Linked DNA regions of Homo sapiens: region 1 is linked to region 2. The links come from fine-mapping of genetic effects on gene expression. A gene starts in region 2. The other region holds a variant in brackets. All regions are shown on one strand. Distances are between the middles of the regions. Region 1 overlaps BMAL2 (basic helix-loop-helix ARNT like 2). Region 2 holds the start of BMAL2-AS1 (BMAL2 antisense RNA 1).

The links.
Region 1: its variant is fine-mapped to the expression of BMAL2-AS1 in sun-exposed skin (GTEx, PIP above 0.99).

The regions. Positions count from the first base shown.
Region 1 is chr12:27,388,413-27,391,334 of GRCh38, forward strand. BMAL2 (basic helix-loop-helix ARNT like 2) reads left to right here. Exons shown (of 17, transcript NM_020183.6): 8 at 767-884; 9 at 1,684-1,827. BMAL2-AS1 (BMAL2 antisense RNA 1) reads right to left here. Exons shown (of 4, transcript NR_109975.1): 3 at 1,983-2,077; 4 at 1,377-1,756. Among named protein-coding and RNA genes, the nearest start is that of BMAL2-AS1, 57 kb to the right of the region's middle. The variant T/A (reference allele first, on the strand shown) is at 1,284.
Region 2 is chr12:27,445,321-27,448,242 of GRCh38, forward strand. BMAL2-AS1 (BMAL2 antisense RNA 1) reads right to left here and starts at 1,314. Exons shown (of 4, transcript NR_109975.1): 1 at 1,177-1,314. SMCO2 (single-pass membrane protein with coiled-coil domains 2) reads left to right here and starts at 1,416. Exons shown (of 9, transcript NM_001395208.2): 1 at 1,416-1,505.

The DNA.
Region 1 (2,922 bases), 57 kb before region 2:
TCCTGTTGTCTATAGGAATGTTTGCTTGGGTAATACAGGAATTCAGAAGAGGGGTGGCCACTGTGGGTCAGGAAGGCGTCACACATGAAGTAGGATGTCTGCCAGGCTTGTCAGAAGGAAGGTGTAGAGAAGGGGAGGAAACATTTCAACCTGGGAGAAGGGAGTCCCGGAAGTCTAGGGAGTCAAAGGCAATTTGGCTGGAGTGGCCAAGGGATAGGGAAGGGGTGATGAATTCTGAGGGGTGGGACTGTATCAGCAAAGGCATAGACCTGGGGATGCTGTGCCTTTTGGGAGTGGTGGAATGGGAAGTGAGAGGTATTCTGGGTTGGATTTTACCTATCAATAGTATGGTAATTTTTTAAACTGTATGGTAAATATCTGATAAAGTCACAGATATTCTGTGATTTCTATATTATACTATGATGTAATCTCTTTTTTTTAACAAGGACAAAAAAAGTTCAAAGTAAATCACAATCATTTACAAGTAACATGTTAACAAGAGTTACAAGATTTAGCAGAATACTAGCAATTGGTGTTTGTATATGGTTTGTGTATATCCAGGGATGGTTCTATACGCATGTATTTTTTTCTGTCTACAAGTATCACCCTGCTTTGAACATTAAGTTCATGTCACACAGTGTCGTGGACATATCTTTGAGCTTGAGAAAAATCAATCAAAAATCAAAAAAGAACATTTATTGTATGCATCAAGAAATGTAGAAAAAGCATGGTACTGATTTTAAATGAATGTCTACCTTATGAATAGGCTAGTTTGACTGGACAAAGCTTATTTGACTTCTTACATCCAAAAGATGTTGCCAAAGTAAAGGAACAACTTTCTTCTTTTGATATTTCACCAAGAGAAAAGCTAATAGATGCCAAAAGTAAGTGTCCATTTCCGCATGCTTATTATTTTATGTAAATGTAATGATCACCTAAAAGTTTAGCTACACAGTGTTTTTAAAACAGCTAACTAAGCTTTTATCAAGAGAGAATTGTTTTGTAAACTTTACATCATACTTAATAAATATATATAGCTATATAGAAAATTCCTATATTCATACAGACATATACAAACACAAATTCATTGATATGAAGATGCTTTGGGGAAAATATGAGTGCTTCATATTTGCTATTTTTCATATGCAAATAAAATCTTTACAAGAAAGTATCATTTGGATAAAAAATTGCTGAAGTTCCCATTATTTAGCTATATGCTAAAAGACAATTACTCTCTTTTTTATATGGATTAGGTCTTTTCTGTATGAAAGACCTTGTATAAT[T/A]GTGTTTGGGAAGTATAAGTATTTTTTTCTTCTCTGAAAATGCCTAGTACCAAATAATTATGTAAAATATAAAACAATTGATTCCTGTAATAGTTAAGGTTTTTTTCATTTTTTAATTTAATTTTTATTTCATTTCACTTAAATTAACTTTGTTCTTCCCCATTTGAGGAAAAAAGAAAGATAAATTGCAAATGTCTGTAAGTTATCAAAATGTGATTGCTTGACAAATACATTTTTTGGGTATATTTCACTTCAGGGTTTACTGTACAATCATGCCATTGCTTTAAAAAACTGTTTCCTTTCTCAATAATAGATGGTCAGAAAATGTTAGGAGATAAATTTCAAAATTATTTGACAATATTCTTTTCCACCTATTCTCTCGCCCCCTTCTGCACGAAAGCTGGTTTGCAAGTTCACAGTAATCTCCACGCTGGAAGGACACGTGTGTATTCTGGCTCAAGACGATCTTTTTTCTGTCGGATAAAGAGTTGTAAAATCTCTGTCAAAGAAGAGCATGGATGCTTACCCAACTCAAAGAAGAAAGGTATCATTTTGAAATGTCAAGTGATGCAAAGCATGGCTATAAAATTAATGTCCTAAATATTTTCTGTACAGAAAAAATAAAATATATGGTCAAGGGAAATATTTGAATTCAAAAGCATCTTAAAAATAAGATTTTTTTAAACCAAAATTACTTACATTTGTTCATCACATCTTTCGAATTTATCAGGTAATTACATATTATCTTTGTTGCCCAAGATTTTAATGGTGTTATTGAAATTGTAGTTTGGGGCCTATCAAGTGGGAAAAAAATGACAAGAGATGGAAATAAAACTTTTGCTGTGAAACTTCATTATTACATTTTAAAATATAAAGGTTAGATGTTAAAAAAACTTCAATAGTACAAGAGCCTGATTTGACTAATTTTGGTGAAAGTTTCTTAAGATGTTCCAGGTGTGATTTTAATTTTTTATGAGATGGTGATTCTTCGGTAAATATCTCATTTGTTTTCTTATGATCCTTTGCTAGATTTTTCTTGCAGATATTTACTTTTTGAATTGATTAAATAGTCATCTATTTAACTTAATTGGGAAATTTCAGGGACTACAAAATGTCTCATGACTTTTTTGCCTAAGAGCATATTAAGCTATGAGATATAGGATTCCATAGGCAAATTTTAACATGGGATTTGCCTTCCTATCCTTTAAAAGGATATTTATATGGAGCCACAAAAATTCAATTAAGTTTTGGTCGGAATCTTTTTTGACAAACACCTGAAACGGTAATTGCTAATACTCATTTATTTAACGCTAACCCTGTGCCAGATACTGTGCTAAGTGTTTTAATCCTCATGAAAACACTATTCTTTTTTTAAAAATTTTCAACATTTATTTTAGATACAGGGACTACATGTGCAGGTTTGTTTCATGGGTATATTGCACTAAGGTAGTGAGCATAGTACCCAGTAGATAGTTTTTCAACCCACACGCCCTTCCCTCCCTTCCCCCTCTAATAGTCCACAGTGTCTGTTGTTCCCGTGTTTATGTCCTTATGTGCTCCATGTTTAGCTCCTACTTATAAGTGGGAACATGTGGTATTTGGTTTTCTGTTCTTGCATCAATTCACTTAGGATTATAGC
Region 2 (2,922 bases):
CCCAGTTTAATTTGAATTTCAGATAAACCATGAATTTTTTTTAGAATAAGTATATTCCATGCACTATTTGGCATATAATTATATTAAACATGTTTTTACTGTTTACTTGAAATTCAAATTTAACTGGGTGTTCTATATTTTATCTGACAACCCTATTAAGAGTTTTGAATTTCAATAATTCATATCACAGCCTTAGTTTAGGATTCTAAAATATGAAACAAAAGCCACAATTTCAAAACTGAAAACTTGCAACGTAAACTATATAAGCTCAATTTGTTACAGCTGCAATTCACTCAGACCCACATGTCCCAAGATAAGACCACAGACAAACCATTTTAACAGTTAACTCCACAGGGACCCATGTGTCCCAGCAAGACCACTTACCTTTCCACAAGTGTCTTAGCTCAGGCTGCCATCACGAAATACCACAGAGTGGGTGGCTTAAACAACAGAAATTTATTTTCTCACAGTTCTGGAGAATAGAAGTCCAAGATCAAGTGCTAGCATGGTCTGTTTCTGGTGAGGGCTCTCTTTCTGGCTTGTAGAAGGTGGCCTTCTTTTTTTCTTTTTCTTTTTCTTTCTCTCTCTCTCTTTTTTTTTTAAGACAGAGTCTTGCTCTGTCGCCCAGTCTGGAGTGCAATGGCGTGATCTCAGCTCACTGTAACCTCTGCCTCACAGGTTCAAATGATTCTCCTGCCTCAGCCTCCCAAGTAGCTGGGATTATAGGCACCCACCAACACGCCCAGCTACTTTTTGTATTTTTAGTAGAGATGGGGTTTCACCATGTTGGCCAGGCTGGTCTTGAACTCCTGACCTCGTAATCCACCCACCTCAGCCTCCCAAAGTGCTAGGATTACAGGCATGAGCCACTGCACCTGGCCAATGGTGGCCTTCTTAATGTGTCCTCACATGGTGGGAGTTGGGAAGCAGGGATTGGGAACAGAGGGAGCAGGAGGGGAAGGGGAGAGAGAGATGGAGGAGGGAGAGAGAAAGCTCTCTGGTGCCTCTTCTTATAAGGGCACTAATCTCATTTATGAGGGCCCCACCCTCATAACCTCATCTAACCTTAATTATCTCCCAAAGGCCTGATCTCCAAATACCATCACATTGGGGCGTAGGTCTTCAACATATGAATTTGGAGGGAAAAACAATTCAGTCAATAACACAGAAACTTACCTAGTTTATAAATTGGATCAATCCCTGACAAAACGTCACTGATCAACTTCCACTCTGAAAATACTCCATGACTAACCAGCATCCTAACCTCCCCACTTTGAGACACTATGGGACTCTATCAAGATGATGTTGATCCTCGAGTTTAATAAGAGCCAATGTGGGTTCTGTGACATCATCATCTCTCTGCTTCTGATTGGTCAAGTATCCTCTCTCTCTCCCCACTTTTCTCCCTCTAATCCAGTGGTTCTCAAACATTAGCTGTACCTGAGGCCCTTGGGGAGCTTCTTAAACCTCAGGCTGCTGGGCCCACTCCCGGAGTTCCTGATTCAGTAAGTCTGGGAGGGGGCCTGGGAATTTGCATTTCTAACAAGTTCCCTGATGCTTTTGCTGATGCTGGTCCAGGGACCATGCTTTAAGAACTTCTGCCTTAGAGATCCTCTTGAATTGTCTGGGGTCGGGGTTAGGGACGGTGGCTGAGCATTGGCATTTTATAAAGTTCCCCACGTGATTCTGACATGGAGACAGCATTGAAAACACTGTTCTAATGCAGTTTCCACACTGTAGTCAGTGTGCTTTTTGGAAAGCACAGATCCGATAAAGGAACTCATCAGCTTAAAACAGTGAATGGCATCTCACTGCCCTCAGTAATAGACACAGCCCCTTAACAAGGCTTATGGGGCCCTGTATGATGGGTTTCCATTTACTTCACTTTCACCTCCAGCCCCTTCTTGAGCTACCTCACCACCTCATGCCCCACAGTCCAGGATTACTGGGGAAACCACAGTTCCCTGAAGATGATCTTGATCCTTTTCTCCATAAGGCTTTGCCCATTCTGCATCTTTACTGGGGAAGCTGTCACCACCGACACACCTCTCTACCTGGCTAACCCTTTCTTGCTCTTCAGAGCCTTACTACTAACAGGGTGATCCATGGACCAGCTGCAACAGCCTCTTCGGGAGCTTGTTAGAAAGGCAGAATCGGCCAGGTGCGGTGGCTCACACCTGTAATCCCAGCACCTTGGGAGGCCAAGGTGGGAGGATCGCTTCAGCCCAGGAGCCTGAGACCAGCCTGGCAACACAGCAAAACCTTGTCTCTATAAAAAATACAAAAACTTAGCTGGGCATGGTGATCCGCATCTGTAGTCCCAACTACTCGGGAGGCTAAGGTGGGAGGAGGTCAAGGCTGCAGTGAGTGGTGATCGCAGGCTGGGAGACAGAGCAAGACTCTGTCTCAAAAAAAAAAAAAAAAAGCAGAACTTTAGGCCTCACTCCAGACCTCCTGAATCAGAACCTACATTTTAACAAGATCCTAGAATGATTCACATTTACAGTAAAATTTGAGAAACTGTTTTCGGGCTTCTGTAGATGTACTTTCTCTGGACTTACGCGTCTGAGCCCCAGAAACTCAGCCGAGTGCCTCTCCTATGTGCTGCCACCGCAACCTTCCCTAGCACTTAACACATTGCACCTGACCAGAGCCAAGTGGCCTGCAAGCTCCGCAGGGACAGGAACTGTATCTTTACGCATGCTTGCATTCTCCACTCCAGCACAGTACCTGACACATAGCAGATGCTCAAAAATAGTTATCAATTAAATACATGTTTTTAGAAACAAGTAGAGAAAGTATTAGCTTTCCGGTTAGAAAATTTTGGACTTAAGTTCTTGATTTACCACTTACTAGCTGTAGGACCTTGAACAAGTCACCCTCCTCCCAGAAGTTGTTACTCATTGTTAAATTGAGAATATT